Linked DNA regions of Homo sapiens: region 1 is linked to region 2. The links come from fine-mapping of genetic effects on gene expression. A gene starts in region 2. The other region holds a variant in brackets. All regions are shown on one strand. Distances are between the middles of the regions.

Region 1 (8,000 bases), 91 kb after region 2:
ATGCAGTTGAATGTAAAGTGCTTGAGCTTGTTTAGAAATAGATTTAAATTAGGCTGGGCGCGGTGGCTCATGCCTGTAATTCCAGCACTTTGGGAAGCCAAGGCAGGTGGATCACCTGAGGTCGGGAGTTTGAGACCAGCCTGGCCAACATGGTGAAACCCCGTGTCATTAGCTGCGTGTGGTGGTGGGCACCTGTAATCCCAGCTACTTGGGAGGCTGAGGCAGGAGAATTGCTTGAACCCAGGAAGCGGAGGTTGTAGTGAGTCGAGATCACACCATTGCATTCCATCCTGGGTGACAAGAGTGAAACTCCATCTCAAAAAAAAAAAAGATTTAAATTAGAAAAATATTATCAGATTTTTTTCTAAAATAAAAAAGGAAAGAAAGATTTGAGGTCTTCAAGGCAGTAATTACTTCTATAGCTAGAAAAAGAAATTAGGACACAAGTCTCTACTCTGCTGAAAAATACAATAGAACTTCTGGGAGTCTCTGAATCTCTTATTAACATGTATTATAGAAGTGCGCAGGTTTATATATTAGTAATCAGTGAGAGCTGATTACTACTCCCAGACCTGCCCCATTTACCTGCCTACTCATGACTGGCTACTTAAGCAAGGCCTTTTAATTCTTTGCATCCTTGGTTTCTTTTTCTCTAAAATCAGCAATTTCTTACCCTGCCCGTCTTATGGGTTGTTGTACTAATTAAATGAGATAAATAAAAATACTGTACTCTTGGCTGGGTGTGGTGGCTCACACCTCTAATCCCAGCACTTTGGGAGGCTGAGTCGGATGGATCACTTGAGTCCAGGAATTCAAGACCAGCCTGGGCAACATGATGAAACCCCATCTCTACAAAAAATACAAAAAAATTAGCCAGGCATGGTGGTGCATGCCTGTGGTCCCAGCTACTTGGGAGGCTGAGACAGGAGGATCACTTGAACCGAGGAGGCGAACGTTACAGTGAGCCGAGATCGTGCCACTTGCACTCCAGCCTGGGTGACAGAGCCGAGACTGTCTCAAATAAATAAATAAATAAATATATTGTAATCTTGCAAGCTTTTAGTATTCGAAGTATTCTTTCATAAAATGGATGTTAAATTAAAAGTGAAAGGAACTTGATACGATATCCTTTTCACTTTCCAGCTTAGGCTGATGTTTGTTTCTTTTCCTCAGTTTTAGATCTCAAACAGTGGTTTTCAAAATATGAGTAATGAACAACTAGTAGGTTATGAAGTTGGGTGCCTTGTAATCAGCAATGTATTTTTCAGTGGAACAGAATAGAAAATGTCAGAATGTGTCACATATAATAAGGAAATCATTGTTTATGAAACTTTGATTCAGGTATATACACACTTTAAATGTTACTGAGTTAAAACAGTGAGTTTCTTACTATGAGTTGTGGTCAGGAAAGTTTGAAAACCATAGCTATAGAATAAGGTGATTAAAAGTCAGAAAGCACAAAATAGTCTTCCCCAGTATTTGTCTGCATTTAAATATAGGCAGCCATATTGCTGTCAGTGTTTTATATTCTTCTCTGTTTTCACCTTAGAACATGATTTACCTGCTCATAGGCCTAGTGGACATTTATTTCCAGGGCCAGCATCGTTTGAGCACTTTAAATCAAAATTAATATATTTTCTTTTGGGGATCTCAAAATGTTTCTCATTTTTATGACATTCCTGTGAGATTAAGATTTCTTTTTATTTATTCATTTATTTTTAAACAGAGTTTCCCTCTTGTTGCCCAGGCTGGAGTGCAGTGGCGCGATCTTGGCTCACTGCAGCCTCCGCCTCCTGGGTTCAAGCAATTCTCCTGCCTCAGCCTCCCGAGTAGCTGGGATTACAGGCATGTGCCACCACACCCAGCTAATTTTGTATTTTTAGTAGAGAAGTGGTTTCTCCATGTTGGTCAGGCTGGTCTGGAACTCCCAACCTCAGGTGATCCGCCCGCCTTGGCCTCCCAAAGTGCTGGGATTACAGGCATGAGCCACCTTGCCTAGCCAAGATTAAGATTTCTTATGAGAAAGCATAGATGACTAAATAGCTTGAGGTAATGGAGTCTTATGACATCAGGACTTCTCACTTCAAGCCAATTACTTTTCCGTAGATATCATTTTTTCTCTTTTTCTTTTTTTTTTGAGATGGAGTCTCACTCTTTCGCCAGGTTGGAGTGCAATGGCGTAATCTCGGCTCACTGCTACCTCCACCTCCTGGGTTCAAGTGATTCTCCTGCCTCAGCCTCCTGAGAGCTGGGACTTCAGGCGCCCGCCACCACGTCCAGCTAATTTTGTTTGTTTTTTTTTTTTTTTTTGGAGACGAAGTTGCTCTTTTGCCCAGGCTGGAGTGCAGTGGTACAGTCTCGGCTCACCACAAGCTCCGCCTCCTGGGTTCACGCCATTCTCCTGCCTCAGCCTCCCGAGTAGCTGGGACTACAGGCTTCCACCACCAGGCCCGGCTAATTTTTGCATTTTTAGTAGAGACGGGGTTTCACCGTATTAGCCAGGATGGTCTCAATCTCCTGACCTCATGATCTGCCCACGTCGGCCTCCCAAAGTGCTGGGATTACAGGCGTGAGCCACTGCGCCCGGCTTCGTAGTGGAGACCTTACAGACATTTTTCCCACCACAAAAGTAAAATTTATAAGTAGAAAAAAATACCACATATATTATGCACCCAAAAAATGATGCTTAAAAGTTTTGTCCATTGCCCTGCAGCAGTGCTTCTCAGAGTGGCTCCTGGGCCACAGGTCGCAGTGGTTCACACCTGTAATCCCAGAACTTTGGGAGGCTGAGGTAGGCGGATCACTTGAGGCCAGGAGTTCGAGACCAGCCTGGCCAATATGGTGAAACCGTGTCTCTAATAAAAATACAAAAATTAGCCGGGCGTAGTGGCAGACGCTTGTAATCCCAGCTACTGGGGAGGCTGAGGCAAGAGAATCACTTGAACCTGGGAGATGGAGGTTGCTGTGAGCCGAGATCATGCCACTGTCCTCCAGCCTGGGCGACAGAGACCCTGTCTCAAAAAATAAAAAAAAAGTAAAGAAGAGTGGCTCCTGGGCCAGCAGCTTCAGCCTCACATGGGAACTTATTAGAAATGCACATTTTGGGACCCCACCTCGGATGTGTTGAGTCAGCAACTCACTGGCAGAACCCAGCAAAGGCCCTTTTTAATAAGCCTTCCAGGTGATTCTCATGCTGCTAAAATCTGGGTAATCACTGTTTTCATTTTCTTTTATATGTATTATTAAATGACTGTTACTCTACAAACATATGGTTGTTATTTTTACTTTTTGGATACCATTATAGTGTAGGCATTTCCCAGGTTTTTTTGGTAACACCATTTTCTTAATGATATGATGTTGCAGCCAGTGGATTTATTACAGTCTTACTTATTATTGCTCTACTGTTGGTCCTTTAGTTTGCTTTTCACTCTTCTATGTAATGCTGTAAGAAATGACTTTTTCCATAAACTATTTTCCATATATTGGATGTATAATTTAACACATTCTAAACATTAATGTTAAAACAGACATAAAGCATAAAAACCGAGATATATATTTGATCATATAAAAATTTAAGCTGGGCACAGTGGCTCATACCTGTAATCCCAGCACTTTGGGAGGCCAAGGTGGGGGTAGACTGGTTGAGCTCAGGGGTTCAAGACCAGCCTGGGAACATGGTGAAACCCCAACTCTACCAAAAAAAAAAAAAGAAAAAAAAGAAAAAATTAGCAAGACGCAATAGCACGCACTTGTAATCCCATCTACTCAGGAGGCTTAAGGTGAGAGGATGGCTTGAACTCAGGAGGCAGAGGTTGCGGGAGCTGAGATTGCACCACTGCACTCCAGCCTAGGCGACAGAATGAGACTCTGTTTCAAAAATAAAATAAAAATTTAAGATCTGTACATGTTTAAAAAATGTTAGAATGCAAATAAGTTGGGAAAATGTGATAAAGGGTTTTTTATAAAAAATAACTCATACAAATTGATAAGGAAAATAGTCAATCTGCAAAAAATAGATGAGCACAGAACATTTAGAGACAATTTATAAATGAAGAAAATATATCTGGTGAAAACACTCTTGAAAAAATGCTCAAATCCAATAGTAAGAAAAAATTGCATAACAGTAAGATACTATTTTTGTCTTTCAGATTATCAAGGCTTAAAAAATTATAATGCCAGTGCTGACAAGAGTGTGGTTTAAAGGGCATCCTTATTTGTTGCTAGTGGCAATGTCAGCTACTACTGACAACATTATTTGAAAGGCAATAGTGTGTATCAGGACCTTTAAAATATATGGACATATTTATCCTTTAAGTCTAACCTTCATCCTTTCTTCATAAGTTTTACAAATACTGTATGCATTTCTGTGGTAGGTAAGTGATAAACTTACTAAGCTTAAAATGAACAGAATCTTAGATGAGGTTTCTTTTCATTTTCTGTTTTTAAGAGGAGTTGCTTTGGTTTGGCCTCTAAACAAGAAGAGCACAAATCTTGCTGCCTACACAGTTGATATTTGGAACTATTCTAGTGGTTCTATTTAATTTTCAAAACCGGGTTATGAAATGGAGAATTAACCACTTTTTACAGATAAG[G/C]AAACAAGATTAGAAGTATTTTACATGTGGTTTTAGAAGGGTGTTTACTGAATGAACTGTTTTATAAGATGTATTACTGCTGGTCTCATGTTTTATTATCATACTGTACCCCTGGTGGAAATCAACCTAAGAAACTCTTTTGTATTTAAAAATGGAAATAATTACTGTGCCTTTGAATTGAAGTAATCTACAAAAGAAATGTGGTCCAGACTTTAGACTTTGTTGGGACTGTGATGATCATTTCTGGCTTTTGGCAATCTGGATCTGAACCTTTGGTTTTATTTAGCTTTCCAGTTCTCAGGGAACAATAGAAACCAGTCTTCAGGATATCGACAGCAGATTATCTCCAGGTGGATCACTGGCAGACGCATGGGCACATCAAGAAGGCACTCATCCGAAAGACAGAAAGTAGGTTATAGCTTTATGCGTAGTTTCTGCTCTTATTAATGTCCTTTTTCACATTGACTCAGTTAATTTATTTGAGTTTTTCTTCCTTAAATAGTGTAGAAAAACTACAAGTCCTGTTAAATTGCATGACAGAGATTTACTATCAGTTCAAAAAAGACAAAGCAGAACGTAGTAAGTAAAATTTGCTATTTGTTAATTTAATAAATCCCTCTTAGTAATTAGTTATAATTCAGTTAAATTAATTTGGTATATCTGTAAGGGTAGCTTCTTAAGCTGTTTTTTTCAGAGATGTGATTCTGTCAGGAAAAAGGTTGATTGTGTTAAAAAAAAAAAAAAAAACTATCCTTAAAATCAACCTTTTGAATACTTTAAATCAGGGTCATGAACACCAGAACCTCTAAAGGCCAGGCAGGTAACAGAAAGGAATGAGATTGGCCAGTGGGGACTCATCTACAGGGGAGAGCCACTACTCATATTCACCAAAGGTATTGCCCAATCTTCCCATTTCTCAAAAAAAGCTAGAAATACAGAATTTGTTAGAAATACCTTGATTTTTAAATGTTAACTGTTAATTGTTTTTTACATTGTTATTTACAGACCAAATAAAAGCATCTGTGGGCCATAAGTAACCAATGAGCCACAAATCTATGACATCTGCTTCAGACTCTTAGCCTTTTTGAAGCAATAATCTCAAAAGAAAATACATTGTGTATAATATTATGATTCTATATTAACAACAGTAATATATTTTCCTATTTCTAGGATTAGCTTATAATGAAGAACAAATCCACAAATTTGATAAGTAAGTATCCAGATTATGTTTAATAGTTATTTTTGGTGCTATTTTGGTTATCTTTATTAATATGATTCTTCTTAAAGTTGAAATTAATTACAATTTAAAAATACATTTTAATCTTGATTTTACAGGATTGTTACAATATGTAGACATTTTTGAGGTTCACACATCTGCTCCCTAATTGGGAAGTTACCATGATGGGAGAAGGAGGGGGGAGAAAGATTACCATTTCAGTCAGTCAGCTTCTGCCTCATATGCTCTGATTACAGAAGTACAGATAATACAGCACATAGGCAAGGGCAGACTTAACTACCGTCTTAATTTTAACCGCATTCAATAGGCATTTTTTTTACATCCATTTTGAACCTTCTCTTTATCTTCTTGCTGCTATAATGTCTATCTTAGAAACGTTTACTTTCTCCTGTAAATATTCTAAAGCCACAACAATCATTATAGGAAAGATACATTTCATATATTTGAAAATTTCTAAATATTGAAAGTAGAAACAGTGACATTGGTTTAAGCCTCTGATTATTTCTAAATTACAGGCAAAAACTGTATTACCATGCCACAAAAGCTATGACGCACTTTACAGATGAATGTGTTAAAAAGTATGAGGCATTTTTGAATAAGTCAGAAGAATGGATAAGGTGAGTAAACTTCTTTTGGAGTGATTAGTGGTTGACTGCACAATATAAATGTATATTTGAAGTAAGAATGCTTCACTAGACTGCATATCAATTGATTCTTTTTGGTTTTCAGAAAGATGCTTCATCTTAGGAAACAGTTATTATCGCTGACTAATCAGTGTTTTGATATTGAAGAAGAAGTATCAAAATATCAAGAATATACTAATGAGGTAGGTACAGCTGTCAAGGAAAAATTAAAATTCTTCTCAGTTTATAACTGATAGTGATTGACAAGGGAGAAATGGGATAGAATGTGCCTACATTCAGTTCCACCCACCAATTTTTAATATGTATTTTGAGCCAAGTTTTAAGAATGTAGATGTTTTACAACTAAAAACAGCTGATAAACCATCCTTTTATCAACTGTATGAAAAGTTTCTTTCTTAAAAGGGTGTTGATTTAAGTATTGTATCATCGATAGTTTTGAAATCAAAATTTAAAGTTTTTTTAAAGGACTTATTAAAAGCTGTAACACTTGATGTCAGATCTGTAGTAAGTACTTTTGTTCTGTGATTAATGTGGGGTTTTTTTCTTTTTTTTTTTTTTTTGATGTTTCAGTTACAAGAAACTCTGCCTCAGAAAATGTTTACAGCTTCCAGTGGAATCAAACATACCATGACCCCAATTTATCCAAGTTCTAACACATTAGTAGAAATGACTCTTGGGTAAGAAACTCATCATTTGGAAACTGTAGTGTTTCCATTTGCTTTCATTGCAGTTTGTGCTTTTGCTCTTACATTTTGAAATTTTTTATGTTTGTTGTAATACAATGTTTAATAAGGTTATCTATTGACCAGTTAAAAGAAAATAAAACATAAACATCATTCTAAAACATTTGCATACTGTTTTTGAGCAAAGGTGCTTGTTTATTTTATTAGTATGAAGAAATTAAAGGAAGAGATGGAAGGGGTGGTTAAAGAACTTGCTGAAAATAACCACATTTTAGAAAGGTGAGTAATGCAAAAATAATTACTGTGATTTTCTGTGCAATTGAGTTCATTCACATCTGTACTTATATCTTCCTGTATCAATAGATTCAGCAGTGGTAAAGGGTCATAAAGTCAGAACTCATGTTTTTCTCTCTATGATTGTGTATCTGTGATGCCTTTTAATGGTTGATTAGTTCCATTTTATAGAAGCACTGGTTAATCGAATTACTTATTTGAATCAGTTTGTAAAGATCAAACTCTATTTACATTATTTTTATAACTTAATTCATTGGAATCATAATTTTCAATTTGGTGAATCAGAGTTGCTTTTTAAGATACCAGCACTTTGGTGCTGAGTAGCTTACGGGGTCCTCTGCACACCTCCTTGCAGGTGAAAGCCACAGGTAAATGCAGTACTTTGAGGAGTTAGGTGTCTGCTTATTATCTGCAAAATCCTAATAGATAAGGCCAAAGAGATTTGAAAGCCTGCAGAGGCAATAAAGCAATTTTTGGATGGCAGTTTTCCTTATCCTGATTCCTCAGAGAAATTAAGTCATATTTGGCTCTGTAATAGAACCTTTTCTTT
Region 2 (17,333 bases):
CCAGCCCTAAACCTGACTTTTTAAAGGTGTCTCATTTAGGAATCTCTTAGTGCTTCAACTTAGTTGTTTTTTTTGTTGTTGTTGTTGTTGCTTGTTTTTTGTTGTTGTTGTTTTTGTTTTGTTTTGTTTTGTTTGAGACAGAGTTTCGCTCTTGTTGCCCAGGCTGGAGTGCAATGGTGCGATCTTGGCTCACTGCAACCTCTGGCTCACCGCAACCTCTGCCTCCCAGGTTCAAGCAATTCTCCTACCTCAGCCGCACAAGTAGCTGGGATTACAAGCATGCACCACCACACCTAGCTAATTTTTGTATTTTTAGTAGAGACAAGGTTTCTCCATGTTGGTCAGGCTGGTCTTGAACTCCCCACCTCAGGTGATCCACCTGCCTTGGCCCCCAAAGTGCTAGGATTACAGGCGTGAGCCACCGCGCCCAGCCCTATACTTATTATTAATGGATACTGATCATTTAAATATCTACTATTAGTAATCTACTATTAGTAATTAGATGACATACAAAGGAAAGATGTCATTGTTATAAAAACCAGACAAATGATTTGGATTAATGTTTTCTTTCACTGAATAATACTCCAATGCTCTATTTTGCCTCTCAGGCTTCCTGCTGCACATGTACTTCCTGTAAGAGGAACTAATGGTTGGAATAGGACCAATAAAGGCAGCATTCCTGACCTGTTTTCCAACTTCTTTCTCTGCCAAGAAGCCCATTATGCATAAGCTTTTAGTGACAATGACATTCGGCTTTAAGAACAATGAGATGAAACACACAGAGAATCTGACACAGAACTCAGCAGCTATCAGCTCGTAATTATGTTCTTTTTGGTTCAACTCAATACATTTCACAAATATTTACTGAGAAATATTTATTAGCCATAAACAGAATCAGGATAACACTTACTTTCAATCTTTAAAAATTGTCTAGTTTTGGCCGGGCATGGTGGCTCACACCTGTAATCTCAACATCTTGGAAGGCCGAGACAGGTGGACCATGAGGTCAAGAGATCGAGACCATCTTGGCCAACATGGTGAAACTCCGTCTCTATTAAAAATACAAAAATTAGCTGGGCGTGGTGGTGCACCAGCTACTCAGGAGGCCGAGGCAGGAGAACTGCTTGAACCAGAAGGCGGAGGTTGCCGTGAGCCAAGATCGCACCACCACACTCCAGCCTGGTGACAGAGCGAAACTCCATCTCAAAATAATAATAATAATAATAATTGTCTAGTTTTTTCTCAGGCAGCCAAGAAGATGGTGGATTGAGACTGAGCATGCCTACCACAAGCAGCTGACCATCATTCAAAGCAAGAAGAGGGTACTGCTAAAGGAAACTGGCAAGAAGCAGCTCCTATGGTACTTACAAGAACATCGGTCTAGGCTTCAAGAGGTCCAAAGAGACTATTGAGGGCACCTACATTGACAAGGAATGCCTGTTCACTGGTAACGTCTCCATCTGAGGGCAGATCCTGTATGGCATGGTGACCAAGATGGAGATGCAGAGGACCACTGTCATCCAGAGAAACTATCTCCACTACATCCGCAAGTACAATTGCTTCGAGAAGTACCACAAGAACTTGTCCATGCACCTGTTCCTCTGCTTCAGGATGTCCAGATCAGCGACATTGTCACGTTGGATAAGTGCCAGTCCCTGAACAAGACGGTGTACTTCAATGTGCTCAAGGTCACCAAGGTCGCAGACATCAAGAAGCAATTCCAGAAGTTCTGAGGCTGAATGTCTGCCTGCTCCCCAAAATGAAATAAAGTTATTTTCTCATTCATACACACAAAAAATGACTAATAGGTAAGATAACCACACAAACTTAATACACAACAAAAACATATTAAAACATATTAATGCAATTAGAGATTTAAAAAAAAACTAGCAAGCTGTGTCAAAGATATGATCAAGCACAAACCTGGTTGAGGACATCTGGAAAGACCTCATGAGGGAGGTAAATTCGATAAATGCTCGAAGAGTGAATGAAACAATTTCTTTTTTACCTTTTATTATAGGCAGTTTTTAAATTTTTTGGCCAATTGTAGTGGCTAACACCTGTAATCCCAACACTTTGGGAGGCCAAGGCAGGTGGATAGCTTGAGCTCAGGAGTTCAAGACCAGCCTGGGCAACATAGTGAGACCTCATCTTTACTAAAAAAAGTTAGCTGGGCATGGTGGTGCCCACCTGTAGTCCCAGCTACTCCAGAGGCTGAGGAGGGAGGATTGCTTGAGCCCAGGAGGCAGAGGTTGCAATGAGCAGAGATTGGACCACTGCACTCCAGCCTGGGTGACAAAGCAAAAAAAAAAGTTTGTTTTTCTTTTTTTAATTTTCTGATTATCAAAGTAGTACATGGTCACTGTACAGAATTTTTTTTTTTTGAGACGGAGGCTCCCTCTGTCGCTCAGACTGGAGTGCAGTGGCATGATCTCAGCTCTCTGCAACCTCCGCCTCTTGGGTTCAAGCAATTCTCTGCCTCAGCCTCCCGAGTAGCCAGGATTACAGGCACCTGCCACCACGCGCAGCTAATTTTTGTATTTTTAGTAGTGACGGGGTTTCACCATCTTGGCCAGGCTAGTCTTGAACTCCTGACCTCGTGATCCACTCGCCTCAGCCTCCCAAAGTGCTGGGATTACAGGCATGAGCCACCACACTCAGCTGAGAATTTTTAAAAATCCAAAAACTTATAGAAAAGAAATGTCTGGAAGCCCATGATCAAGGTGCTGACAGATCCAGTGTCTTGTGAGGGCCTAATTTCTGGTTTGAAGATGGCTGTCTGTCTTCTTGTATCCTCACATGGTGGAAAGAGAGCTCTCTAGCTCCTCTTACAAGGGCACTAATCCTATTCATGAGGGCTCCACTCTCATGACCTGATTATCTCTCAAAGGCCTCACCTCCAGATACCATACAGTGAGTGAGGGTTTCAACATATAAATTTTGGGAGACACACACATTTAGTCCATTGCAGACATGTTAGAGTTGAGGTGCTGGTGAGACATGCAGGCATCTGTGAATGCAAGTTGGCAGTACAGAATATTAGGACCAGAAGTACAGAACTGGAAGTCATCTTCATAGAATTGCGTGTTGAAACTGCAGAAATAGATAATTTACTAAGGGAGCAGGTGTAGGCAAAGGAAAACCAGATGGCTAAGAACAAAGGCCTGGGGAAGAAAACATGTTAAGGGAGCAAAAGGATATGGTGAGGAAGACAAAGAGGAATGGTCAAAAAAGTAAAAGGAGTTTAATAATAATATAGGGTCAGAAGTCAAAAGAGAAGAGAATTCTGAAGAGGAAGGAAATAGTCAACAGAGAAGTTGAAAGAAAAGAATAAATGAATAAAAATGGTCCCACGACTGGAAAATTTGTAGGAGTTTTAGTTGAGTGACTTGGGAGTGAAAAAACAGATTACAAAAAGTGAAGGAAAGGAAGAGTACGTACAGGAAACGAATGTGATGTACTGGAGGCAAGAAATCTTGAATCAAGAATCCAAGGTTCTAGTCTACCATTTACCAGTTATGTAACTCGGGATACATTCCTTAAAATAGATCTACCTTAGTTTCCTCATCTGTAAATTTAAAATGGTGATGATGATACCTGCTCCATCCCTACAATGTTAGAGGAACAAATTAGAAGATACATGGAGGCACGGTGAAAACCATAAGGGACCACATATACAAATGTTATCTATCATAATTCTTTCAAGTACTTCAGCAATTGAAAGAAAAGGGAGACATGGGACAGGTACAAATAAAGTTTTGTCATTATAAGAAAGGGCCTTCTGAGCATATTTATAGGAAGAACAGACTCAGTACTATAGTCCTACACTGTCATCAATCCTAATGGACCTTCATTTGAGAGATAGGTTAGTGGCACACACTCTAGAGTCAGACTATGTGTGTTTCAATCCCAGCTCTTTTTTTTATTTTTTAGTTGTATTTCAATGACTACAAATGAATCCCAGTTCAGCTACTTAACTTCTATGCACTCCAGTTTCCTTGTCTATAAAATGGGGATAATAATAGTATCTATCTCCATAGAGTTGTGAGGATCGATGTATAAACACTTTAAAACTGTGTTTGATGGCCAGGCGCAGTGGCTCATGCCTGTAATCCCAGCACTTTAGGAGGCCAAGGCTGGCAGATCACTTGAGGTCAGAAGTTCGAGATCAGCCTGACCAACACGGAGAAACCCCATCTTTACTAAAAATACAAAATTAGCCGGGTGTGGTGGCATATCCCTGTAGTCCTAGCTACTCGGGAGGTTGAGGCAGGAGAATCGCTTGAACCTGGGAGGCAGAGGTTGCGGTGAGCCGAGATCGCGCCATTGCACTCCAGCCTGGGCAACAAGAGTGAAACTCTGTCTCAAAAACAAAAACAAAAACACAAAAAACAAAAAAAACTGTTTGGCAAACATGCTCAAAAATATTGGCAATTAATACATAAAAGCATTGTCATATGCAAGCATACATGCTTTATGTTAAAATTGAAACTACCATTACAAAATTATAACCAAGACAGTGAAAGAGATCTGATCTGACCAACTGCATTTTGCTTCTAAACTCCAAGCTGTCCTTGTTCATTCCTGGGCATAGGCTGAACTAACTTTGGAAGGATCTTAGTTTAGAGTTTATAGTTAAAACAAAGACAATAACAGCCTCTTCCCAAAACACCCTTCTTACCTGGGGACTAGACTACCTTTGTAGGACTAACAAATTAGCCATAAGATTAGAAATTATTGTTTAGAAATCATGCAGCTGGAGGCTACAAGATTCTGATCCTCCCCGAATTGTTCCTGGGGATAACACCACTATTGTAAAACCTACGATCAGTGCTTGAGATATTTTGCAAACCCTGTACTTGATAGATCAGCTGGCACCACTCAGATCAAAAAACTGGGTCATCTGATCTTGTGGCCGCCACCCAGGAACTGACTCAGTGCGCAGGAGGACAGCTTCAACTCTCTCTGATTTCATCTCTGATCCAACCAATCAGCACTCTCAATTCACTGACCTTCCCTCATCCATCAAATCAGCCTTAAACACTCTGATCCCTGAATGCTCAGGGAGACTGATTTGAATAATAATAAAACTCAGTCTCCCATACAGGGAGCTCTATGTGAATTACTCTTTCTCTATTGAGATTCCCCTATCTTGATAAATTGGGTCTGTCTAGGCAGCAGGGAACCTATTGGGCAGTTACAAAAGGAGCCTTTTGGGCAGTTACAAAATGATAGTGTTATTTGTCAACATGTTGATGACTAACATTTTCATCTGAGATGAGAAACTGCCCATCCCTTCATGGACGGAGGAGGCAGAATATGGAATGGTCAAATGTAATACCTCTCTTAGGTCCTCTTCAGTTGGATTCTACCAAGTGCTTCTTTATTTGTTCTTTTTGTTGTTGTTGTTGTTGTGGTTGTTGAGATGAAGTCTCACTCTGTTGCCCAAGCTGGAGTGCAGTGGTGCGATCTCAGCTCACTGCAACTCCACCTCCCGGTTCAAGCAATTCTCCTGCCTCAGCCTCCCGAGTAGCTGGGACTACAGGCATGTGCCACCACGTCCTGCTAATTTTTGTATTTTTAGTAGAGGCAGGGTTTCACTATGTTGGCCAAGCTGGTCTTGAACTCCTGACCTCCTGAACCACCCATCTCGGCCTCCCAAGGTGCTGGGATTACAGGCATGCATCACCACACCCGGCTTTTTTTTTTTGAGATGGAGTCTCACTGTGTTGCCCAAGCTGGAGTGCAGTGGCGCAATCTCGGCTCACTGCAACCTCCCAGGTTCATGCAATTCTCCTGCCTCAGCTTCCCAAGTAACTGGGACTACAGGCATGTGCCACCATGCCCGGCTAATTTTTTTTTTGTATTTTTAGTAGAGACGTGATTTTACTGTGTTGGCCAGGCTGGTCTCGATCTCTTGACCTTGTGATCCATCTGCCTCAGCCTCCCAAAGTGCCGGGATTACAGGCATGAGCCACCGCGCCTAGCCTCTTTATTTGTTCTGAAATAATATGAGTTTACAAAGTTGAAAGAGATTTCTACAATTCTAGGTATTTCAACTACCATAAACGAAAGAGCTAATGTTAGTAGATAAACTGTAGATAAACTGAAGATAGGCTTTGTATAACATTCAACATAAGAAGTAGCCATAAAATGAATTTACAAACAAAACAGCAAGTAAAGACATCTATAATACGATAGATTGAATTGCCATATTCTTTAGGATGAGGCCTGGAATATGCTGAACATACAGATTGCAGAGGCACTCAGCCCAAGATTAGTATTGGGCCTTCATACTCCACAGTTGATCATCACAGCTAATATAAGAATTCATGCAATGATTCAGTTATTGAGTTGAAACTAGCAGGCTGGCACTGTGCTAGACTCGAAAGATATACTGAAATAGGTAGGGCAGAAATCCTAGCCTGAGATTTTTTTTCTTAGAAATAACATTCATAGCAACTTGTGAAAAAAGCCATGCCTGTGTCTCCAGCAGCAGTGAAACAAGATGGTGGATCCCCTCACCATTAACCCCCATATGGAAAGGGTATATGTAATTCAGAAGGGATGTGTATTATGTCTGTTCTCACACTGCTATAAAGGAATGCCTGGGACTGGGTAATTTATAAAGGAAAGAGATTTAATTGACTCACAGTACCTCAGGGCTGAGGAGGCCTCAGGAAACTTACAATCATGGCAGAAGGGGAAGCAAACACATCATTCTTCACATGGTGGCAGGGGAGAGAAGAATGAGTGCCCAGCAAAGGGGGAAGCCCCTTATAAAACCATCAGATCTCATGAAAACTCACTATTACGAGAACAGGGTGGGGGAAACCAACCCCATGATTCAATTATCTCCACCTGATCCCGCCCATGACATGAGGGGATTATGGGAATTACAATTCAAGATGAGATTTGGGTGGAGACACAGCCAAACCACGTCAGGATGTGTAGACAACTGAAGTACAATAACATCAAGGCTGTTTTGACGTAAGGGCAGAATTTACAGTATGTGCTCTCACACAACTTGAAATCTTAAAGGCCTTCCGGGAACAGGGTTAATCAGAAACCAACATGGCAGATTAGTACCAAAGATGGAGTTACTTTAGCTTCCAGATTCCACCCATCAATCCAGCTCTTACAGTTTCACTCGCCCTCCTATTTGGAGATGGTCCCTGAGCTTTTAGGGAGGGTGGTTTCATATGATATAGCTTTAGCAGCAGCGCCCTAGCAGTGGAAAACAGATTGGGCCCAGAGAGATTCCAAATGAGGGAGATTCACAGGCTTTGTTGAATTATCTCTAGTCTTGAGAATACCATGACTTTGGTTTTCTCAGAAGTAAAACAAGAGATACTTCTTGTTTATAATTAATTTGAATAATTAATAATTTGAATAGTAGAAACATAATGCATGCAAGGATTACAATCAAAAGAAAATTTGTATGCCAGAACAACAAAGAACCTATTTCGTTGGGAAGCCAACTGAGAGCAGCGTGAAGAAAATTAAGGCCTGACACAGGGACTCACACTCGTAATTCCAACACTTTGGGAAGCTGAGGTGGGAGGTTCATTTGAGCCTGGGAGTTAGAGATCAGCCTGGGCAACAGAGCAAGTCCCCATCTCTACAAAAACAAACAAAAATAGCCAGGTATGATGGTATGCACCCGTAGTCCCAGCTCCTTGGGCGGCTGAGGCAGGAGGATTGCTTGAGCCCAGGAGGTCAAGGCTGCAGTGAGCTATGACCACTCTACTCCAGACTGGGTAACAGAGCGAGACCCTTTCTCTAAAAACAAGAAAAAATTAAAACCCAGTTCTCCTTTAGCGACATCTTGTAGCCACTAGCCTGACATTTTAAACACATAAATTAGAAACATGATGCAAGAGTGATTCAAGGTATTTTATATAGGAAATGCCTGGTGTAGTGTCTTGGACAGCTAAATAAAGGTAGCTGTTAAAACATTAGTTTTATTCTATGCTCTTACCATTCCTCCCTCTCCAAGTTTTGTTTGTAGTCTGTGGCAGCAACCTAGTCTGTATTTAGTACACATTGAATAATCAACAATGAAATGTAAATATTGAGCACATTGTGTGTCAAACACATGTATTAACTCAAACCTCACAGAAACCCTTTGAGGTCGGTACTATTAACAATCCCCATTTTACATACGAGTAAACTGAAGCATGGATAGACTAAAGTAAAGTGCCTGAGGTCAACTAGTGAGGAGGCGGAGTGGCAGTCAAGTCGAGGCAGCCTAAGCCTACACTGCCTCTATGTTGCATTAATAAATTAATAAATCTGTGACCAAATAAATGAAGTGACATTTAGTAGCATCGAAAGATCCCGTGAGTAGGACTTCCTAAGAATGCTCTCCTTCTTTTCATGGACAAAATTTTAGTCTGTTTAAAATAAATTTTGGACCGGACACCGTGGCTCACGCCTGTAATCCCAGTACTTTGGGAGGCCGAGGCAGGTGATCACTTGAGGTCAGGAGTTCGAGATCAGCCTGTCCAACATGGTGCAACCCTGTCTCTACGAAAAATACAAAAATTAGCTGGGTATGGTGGCGCGCGCCTGTCATCCCAGCTACTCAGGAGGCTGATGCAGGAGAACTGCTTGAACCCCGGAGGCGGAGGTTGCAGTGAGCCAAGATCTCGCCATTGCACCCCATCCTGGGCGACAGAGCGAGACTCCGTCTCAAAGAATAAATAAATAAATTAATTAATTAATTTTGAAAACCTGTCAGCACTCATCAGAGCTTTACACTGCTGTACTCGGGACACTTGGGGCCGTAGACAAGCAATTAAATTGACTCACACGTGGTTAGAACCACGTCATCCTGATTCGTGAATCCGTACTCTCAACTACTAGAAGCCCTTTGTGGAATGCTCGGGGCGAACCTGACGCTTGAGCTCTGACACCACGCAGACACAGCCGGGGATTTAGGAGCTGGGTAGGGACTCCTGGGCCGGATGCCTCATCCCGGCATGCACCTCAAGCCCCGGTGACCACGCCTTCCGGCGAGCGCCAGGGAGCGCGTGTGCGCCTCGCCGCCCGGAAGCGCCGGCCGCTCCCTGCATGCTGGGAGTTGTAGGCCTCCGGCGTCAGCCCGCGGGCTGCCGCCCGCACTCTCCAAGAGACTGCTGGCGCCGGCGCCCGCCCGCGCGGCACCGACGCGGGGAGCGCGCTTCGCGCTGACTCAGCGGCGGCGGCGGCTGCGGCGGCGGCGGCGGCGTTAGCCGGCCCTCGCGCTCTTTCCCTTCCTGGGGCGCCGACCCCGCCCGCTTGCTTGCTTGCTTGCTTGCCTGCCTGCCTGCCTGCCCGGCGCCACGCAAGAGAAGGTGCCAGGGGACGCAGAGCGACTAGAGGCGCGCGGTCCCGGCCAGCACCGTCTCTGGCGTTGTAGCTGCGGCCGTGGCGGAGGACTACGGCGACAAGGACGAGGGCCGCTCTCCCAGCTCTCTGCGTGCCGCGCCGCTCCGCTCCGCTGGCTGACCATCTGGAGTGCAGGCTGGGAGGCGGGATGGAGTGATAGGGAAGGTGACTCGGGGCTCGGGGGCAGCGGGACCGGGACCAGGTTTGGTCCGCGTGAGGCTTCGAGGAAGTTGGCCGGGGCGGACCGGCCCGGGGGAGTCCCGACGCCAGGGAGGGTGCAGGCTTGGGACCCTCTATGGCGGTGCACCCCCTGGCTGGGCGGACCGGGTGGGGGTGGGTACGAGCCGGGGCCGCCGCCGAGGAGCGCGTCCCGAGTGCGTGGCCGGCGGTTGCTTGGTGTTTCATCACCCGAATTGCCACGAGGCTTCCTTTAGGGGAGGGATCGGGGGAGGGATGGGAGCAAGGCTAGCAGAGGAGGGTCGGCATCGCCTGTGGTTCCGAAGCCCGTTAGTCATCGTTGTAGCGTTATCAACTGTGGAGACCTCAAACTTGATTCTTCCCCCACCCCTGGACAAAAAGGAAAAGTGTTATTTCTGTGCAGTAATTGGCCAGCACGGACGCTCCATTTCTTCTCAAACCTTCCTCACCATCCTGCAGGACTAGAGAAGCATGAGGTTTCCCTGTAACCAGAAAAACGAGTACTTTTTGAAAGTGCTAATTAGTTGTGGCGGGCGGGGGTTGGGGGAGAGTTACGTTTTATTAAACCGACTTGTCAGCGTGGTGTTAAAAGGCTGGAAAGATTCAGTCGTAGTATTTGAAACAGTCTTCAGTAGGTGTAGAGGAATTTTTCCAAATTGTTTGATTCTTAATGGCTATCCAGGAAAAGTTAAGGCTTAATATTTTAAGTATGTTGCTTGCCTTCCCCCAAGAACCTTTGCAAGATGCATAATTGTTTACCGTATTGAAACATTTTTTGGGGTTTTGTTGTTGTTGTTTTGAGACGGAGTCTCGCTCGGTCGCCCAGGCTGCAGTGCAGTGGTGCCATCTCGGCTCACTGCAACCTCTGCCTCCCAGGTTCAAGTGATTCTGCAGCCTCAGCCTCCCGAGTAGCTCTATTACAGGTGCGCCCCGCCACACCTGGCTACTTTTTGTATTTTTCGTAGAGATGGAGTTTCACCGTGTTAGCCAGGATGGTCTCGATCTCTTGACCTCGCGATCCGCCCGCCTCAGCCTCCCAAAGTGCTGGGATTACAGGCGTGAGCCACCGCGCCCGGCCTTCCACTGCATATTGATCGTCCAAATGCCTTCTATGTGGGGGATTCTTTCTGTAGTGACAACTGTTAACTAGTTTGTTTCCTTGGGTTTATTGGCTATGTTTTCCTTAGGGCCACTTCATTTTTCTCCCGATAGCTTCAGAGTGACTTGACCAAGCTTAAGCACTTTTTCTTTTTTTTGACACAGTGTCTCACTCTGTCGCCCAGGCGGGAGTGCAATGACACGATCTCCGCTCACTGCAACCTCCCCCTCCCGGGTTCATGCGAGTCTTCTGCCTCAGCCTCCTGGGTAGCTGGGATTACAGGCGCAGGCCACCATGCCCAGCTAATTTTTGTATTTTTAGTAGAGACGGCGTTTCACCGTGTTGGTCAGGCTGGTCTCGAACTCCTGACCTCGTGATCCGCCCACCTCGGCCTCCCAAAATGCTGGGATTACAGGCGTGAGCCACCGTGCCCAGCCAGCAATTTTTTTTAGATGGAGTTTCGCTCTCGTTGACCAGGCTGGAGTGCGGTGGCGCCATCTCAGCTCACTGCAACCTCCGCCTCCCGGGTTCAAGCGATTCTCCTGCCTCAGCCTCCCGAATAGCTGGGATTGCAGGCATGTGCCACCACACCCGGCTAATTTTTGTATTTTTAGTAGAGACGGGGTTTCTCCATGTTGGTCAGGCTGGTCTCGAACTCCCGACCTCAGTTGATCTGCGCCCCCCTCCCCTCGGCCTTCCTTAGTGCTGGGATTATAGGCGTGAGCCACCCTGCCTGGCCAGCATTTTTTTAAAAAGCCATAGCAAATTCAAGGAAGCTTTTATTGGACTTCTCAATCAGGGATTCTTAGAAACTCCGAAATCGTTTTTTCTCTCTGTGGGCATTTTTCAGGGGAATGGACATCAGATTTTCTTAACATTTAGGGGGCGAAGGGAACCAGTGCCTTTCTTTGTGTTTTTCTGTCTTTTAAAAATGCTGATCTGGTATAAGAATGCCCCAAGTCGTTTCCATTCCACATGTTCCTACCTCTGACTATAAACAACGTATTGAGGGCTCACTATGTGCCAGCCATGCTCTGCATACCTTATCTCTTTGAAGCCTTTACAACTTTATGAGGCATATGGTCTTTTTCCCATGTCATAGAAAGGGTTCTCTCAGGTTTTGTAAGTTGTCCAAGTGGCCCCAATTAAAAAATGACAAGATGGGGATACAAACCCAGGTCTTTGAAATCCAAAACCTATGCTCTACTATGTCCTAGGGACATAGTGATGGATAGTCAAGACAGTCCTTGCCCTTTAAGATTGTGAGAAATGGCCGGGTGGCTCACACCTGTAATCCCAGCACTTTGGGAGGCCGAGTCTGGCAGATCACCTGAGATTAGGGGTTCGAGACCAGCCTGGGCAACATGGTGAAACCCCATCTCTACTAAAAAATACAAAAATTAGCCGGGTGTGGTGGCTCACCCCTGTAATCTCAGCTATTTGGGAGGCTGAGGCAGAAGAATCACTTGAACCCAGGAGCCAGAGGCTGCAGTGAGCCGAGATCATGTCACTGCACTCCACCCTGGGCAACAGAGTGAGACTGTCTCAAAAAAAAAAAAAAAAGATTAATGAGAGAAAACTAGTAAGCTGGCAGTGACAGCATAGCAGTGCTTAGGATGGGGCATGTAATCCAATTTGGGAGAGTTGGACAATAGAGGTCAAAGAAGTGTTCTTGAAAGAGATGGCTTCTAAGTTGAATTTCAAAGGACAGCAGGGGTTAACCTACTAACAAGAAGAAAGAGCAGTGTGCAAAGATGAAAGGTAGAATACCACTGGAGAACTGCCATATGGTTCACTAGCACTGGCCTTGCTGACCTGGTGTGCAGAATAGTGAGGAGTTATTCAAAAGTGTTTGGATCGTAATCTGAGGGCAGTAGGGAGTTACACTGCCTTGAAGTCTGCAAGTACGTTATGAACCATAAGAGAAAGGGCTGAGCTGTCTTCAAAGCTCTCAGTCCATATCCTGAGTTATTTGATTCAGGCAGGCTCAGAGGAAAACAGAAAAGCCTATTGTAGGTATCCTGTAACCTGGACCTGAGCCTGGTTTTGCTATTCCCAAAAGGCCTTTCTCCCCTACCCCTGCTATTCCCAAAAGGCTTTTCTCCCCTACCCCCAATCCAATTAGTTTTTTGGCGTCTTTGGTTAACGGTAATTGAAACAAAAAGCCCCACAGCCTTTTTTTGTTTTTTTTGAGACAGAGTCTCGTTCTGTCACCCAGGCTGGAGTGCAGTGGCGTGATCCCAGCTCACTGCAACCTCCACCTCCTGGGTTCAAGCGATTCTCCTGCCTCAGCCTCCCAAGTAGCTGGGATTACAGGTGTGTGCCACCATGCTCCACTAATTTTTTTGTATTTTTAGTAGGGGATTTTACCATGTTGGCCAGGCTGGTCTTGAACTCCTGACCTCAAGTGATCCACCTGCCTCGGCCTCCCAAAGTGCTGGGATTACAGGCATGAGCCAGCACGCCTGGCCCCCCACAGCGTTTAATGGAAGTAGTAAGACTTGGTCTCCCTACCTTATAGGTCTTGAGAGAATAATATCATTTTTCACATCATTTAGAGTTTGTTCCATGTTTGCTCAAATGAATATGCATTCTATCAAAAACTAGGATGCCTTTTGCAGCTTATTATTTGAGAATGTTGGAACCTATATTGTGAAGAAGTGGATTACCTCTCAGAGATTAAAAAAAATCCTTAAATAAGAGTAGTCAGTGTTAAGTCATTTGTGGATTTTTTTTTGTGTGTTTTGTTTTTTTTGAGATGGAATCTCACTCTGTTCTCCAGGCTGGAGTGCAGTGGCGCAATCTTGGCTCACTACAACCTCTGCCTCCTGGGTTCAAGCGATTCTTGTGCCTCAGTCACCCGAGTAGCTGGGATTACTGGCATGTGCCACCAAGCCTGGCTGATTTTTGTCTTTTTAGTAGAAACAGGGTTTCACCGTATTGGTCAGGCTGGCTTGAACTCCTGACCTTAAGTGATCTGCGCACCTCAGCCTCCCAAAGTTCTCAGATTACCGGTGTGAGCCACTGTAGCTGGCTGGTTTGTGGGTTTTTGTATCTACTATTGAAAAACTTTTTTTTTTTTGAAATTTTTAGAATTGGCTGGCAAGAGCAGAGATCTGTAAAATGCAAAACTAAGTCCATTGCTCAAAAGCTAAATGACTGGTTTTTCATTATCCTGTTCCTTTCATTAGACTTCTGTCATAGTACTTAGTAAACACTCCAAAGGATATTGAACTCTGAGGTCAGCCATTCTAATGTTTTAAAGAAGGTTTGTGATATTTGTATCTGGAAGTAGACAAATTATTATAATTACTGTAATAGTCTGCATTTGTCATTTTTATACTTAACTGCAGTTGCACAATTGCATTTTTAAGTACTAGAGATAAGTAAAACACTGCATAAATTAGGTACTTCTACTATTTAAAGTAGAAAATGATTACTTTCTATACCTTATTAAGAAGATCTTGAAGACTAAGAAAGCTTGAGGACCTTTATGGCATACTTTAAGATTTTTAGGGGCCAGGTGGGGTGGCTCATGCCTGTAATCCCAGCACTTTGGGAGGCCAAGGCGGGCGGATCACGAGGTCAGGAGATCAAGACCATCCTGGCTAACACGGTGAAACCCTGACTCTACTAAAAATACAAAAAATTAGCCCAGCGCGGTGGCGGGCGCCTGTAGTCCCAGCTACTCGGGAGGGTGAGGCAGGAGAATGGCGTGAACCTGGGACACGGAGCTTGCAGTGAGCTGATACGGTGCCACTGCACTCCAGCCTGGGCAACAGAGTGAGACTCCGTCTCAAAAAAAAAAATCAGATTTTTAGGAATTACACATTAGTGGAGTAGTTAGCAGAGCCCATTTTTCTGAGAATTAGGCTCTAACTTTTAGTTGTAATTTAGATAAGTTCCAAAATAAGTTTTTAAACATTTAAGCTTCTTTGCATGATTTTATCCATTTACGTTATTCAGGATAAGCATCTATTTGTTTATCAAGTAATGTTTTCTTTCAACTTTGTTTTTTGTGGCAGATGTTTATAAATTCTTCTGTGGGATCAGAGGGCACGCCTATTACAACCAGAAAACTACAAGTATAACAGCGAGGATGGATGAACAGGCTCTATTAGGGCTAAATCCAAATGCTGATTCAGACTTTAGACAAAGGGTAAGTTACTCTGCTGAATCATTTTTTAATCATGTCACCACAGATTGGCATTAGAGGACTTGAATAAAAATGCACCTGGCAAAAGTTTACTTTGGGTAGAAATGAACAGAAACAAAAAAATTTGAGGTATTTGAATATATTTTGAATATAGAAACAGTGAGTGTTGTGATTTATTTTCTGTTTACTTGGCCAAACAAAAGTATTAAAATCTCATATGATTCAAGGCAGATCTTTATGCAACATCAGTCATTATTTCTAATTATTTAAAAATTGTAATGCAAAGGATTCGTTTAAGAGACTTTCCATAGCAGCAGACATGTGTATTTTATTTTCTCTTTCCTTGGCTTGATCTATACAAGCTGTTTTAACACTTACCTTAATGATTTTTTTTTTATTTTAATTTTTTTCTAGAGATAGGGTTTCACCATCTTGCCCAGGCTGGTCTCGAACTCCTGAGCTCAAGCGATCTGCCCACCTCAGTCTCCTAAAATGCTAGGATTATAGGCATGAGTCACCCTGCCCGGCCACATTAGTGATATTTAACTTTCTTGTTATTTGGTCTAGGCAGACATAAATAAGCAGTTATGATAGGTTATGTCTTAAGTAAAATGGTTACATGACAAGAATCCATTATAAAGTGCTGGGATAGTTGGATAAATGTAAACAATTAAATATAATGTAGCCTACAACTATAATCATGACTATAGCTGAATGATAGAAAAATATAAAGAATGAGCCTATAATTAATTTTTTTTAAAGACGTGGGCATTTGGAACTATAGGGTAAGTGGAAAGGAAAGAGGCATTTTCTTTTTACTTTTCATAGCAAAGAATACTTTTTATAAATGAGCTAAATGAGGTTAACAATCTCACTAAAAATTATAGCAGTTTTTATTCTTATTTTAAGAAAAAAATCTTTTAAAGCAGTAAAAAACAATCCCAACTAGTTTCTAATACAGTACCATGTGCATGTCTCTGCTACTAAATAAGTAACGAGCCCTTCAGATACAGGAAAATAATAGGAATTGAGATTTAAGTATCTGGCTAATTACAAGATACCTATCAAACAAGTTAGGACATCAAAAGACATTTAAAATCCATGTCTTCTGTGTGTAAACAAATCTTTCTTGTCATAGGGTTTTATGCTACCTACCTTCAAACATAGTTGAAGTATCATAGATCTTTACCTTTAGTCTAGCTTGGTATTGCATGCTTGTAATTAAAAGCCTTTGACTGTATGTTTAGTTATTAAATGGCCTTTACTGTTATTTTTATGTGCCTCTTGAAATCTTTCATTTCTTAAGTTCCAGCATCCAATTTTTGGATGAAAGAGGCATTTTCTTTGCCTCTTAAGTTCCAGCATCCAATTTTTTTAAATGTGCCATGATTTCTTTTTCAGAAAATTAAAACCAATACATTATTAGTGGTTTTAATACAGAAGCTCTGCTTTTTGTCAGTAAAAATGGGTTCTGTCACATACGTGTTTTAAGCATCCAGGTCCAGGCATAATTCAGTATCCATTTAGCCAATCTGAATAACAATTTATTAGGATGAAAGGGAAGAAATCTTAAAGTGAATTCTGAAAGCCCTTTTGTTGCAGTTCGGGAGTAGTGGAAACTTAATTCAGTTTGGTGGTGAGAAGAATGACTGTCTGCCAACCCCAATTGCTCAGTTGTCTATCTGTAATTCTCTGTTTTTTACATGGGCAATAAAAGTTGAACTGACTCTTGTCACATAGAGTCAGTCAACCATTAGAAAAAAGGTATGGGGTAGAACTAGGTGGTGAAAGCTAGGACTTGTTTGTCAGTGTTGTAGAATTTTGTTTTTTTAATTGTTAGTAATGCATAGATTCAGAATACAAAGGCTTTGTTTAAAAACTAAAAACTTCCACGTTATCTCTCCTCTCCTTCCTCTCACCCCTGCCCCGCCCCCCGCCCTTTTTTTTTTGAGACAGAGTCTCACTCTGTTGCCCAGCCTGGAGTGGAATGGCACCATCTTGGCTCACAGCAACCTCCAACTCCCGGGTTCAAGAGATTCTCCTGCCTCAGCTGGGATTAGAGTAGCTAGGATTAGAAGCACACACCACCACGCCTAGCTAATTTCTGTATGTTTGGTGGAGACGGGGTTTCACCATGTTGGTCAGGCTGGTCTCAAACTCTTGACCTTGTGATCTCCCTGCCTCAGCCTCCCAAAGTGCTGGGATTACAGGCATGACTCACCGCGCCCAGCCTCCTCCTTTTTAAAAAATAAAACACTCGTCTTTGGCTTAAAACCTGTTATTATTTAAAGAAAATGGTATGTCATGACATTTCTAGCAGCTGAAACCACCTCTCCCCTCTTTTGTAAGTGAAATATTAGGTGGTAATGCAACATACATGATTAACTTCTACCTTGTCCTCTGGCCTCTGAGATATTCCTAAAGAATACCCTATGTTTCATGGACTGCTGTTAGAAACAACTAAGCTAGTACTATCTTTTATAGCTGCCTGTGTTCTTATAGTCTTAA

The links.
Region 1: its variant is fine-mapped to the expression of XPOT in whole blood (INTERVAL, PIP above 0.99).

The regions. Positions count from the first base shown.
Region 1 is chr12:64,490,605-64,498,604 of GRCh38, forward strand. It overlaps TBK1 (TANK binding kinase 1), which reads left to right. Exons shown (of 21, transcript NM_013254.4): 14 at 4,879-5,000; 15 at 5,095-5,171; 16 at 5,763-5,802; 17 at 6,345-6,446; 18 at 6,559-6,655; 19 at 7,044-7,150; 20 at 7,364-7,435. Among named protein-coding and RNA genes, the nearest start is that of TBK1, 42 kb to the left of the region's middle. The variant G/C (reference allele first, on the strand shown) is at 4,593.
Region 2 is chr12:64,395,268-64,412,600 of GRCh38, forward strand. It overlaps XPOT (exportin for tRNA), which reads left to right and starts at 9,125. Exons shown (of 25, transcript NM_007235.6): 1 at 9,125-9,537; 2 at 14,695-14,828. The coding sequence starts at 14,769. It also overlaps the pseudogene RPS11P6. RefSeq lists enhancers at 8,700-8,749, 9,847-10,723 and silencers at 9,140-9,299, 9,630-9,739.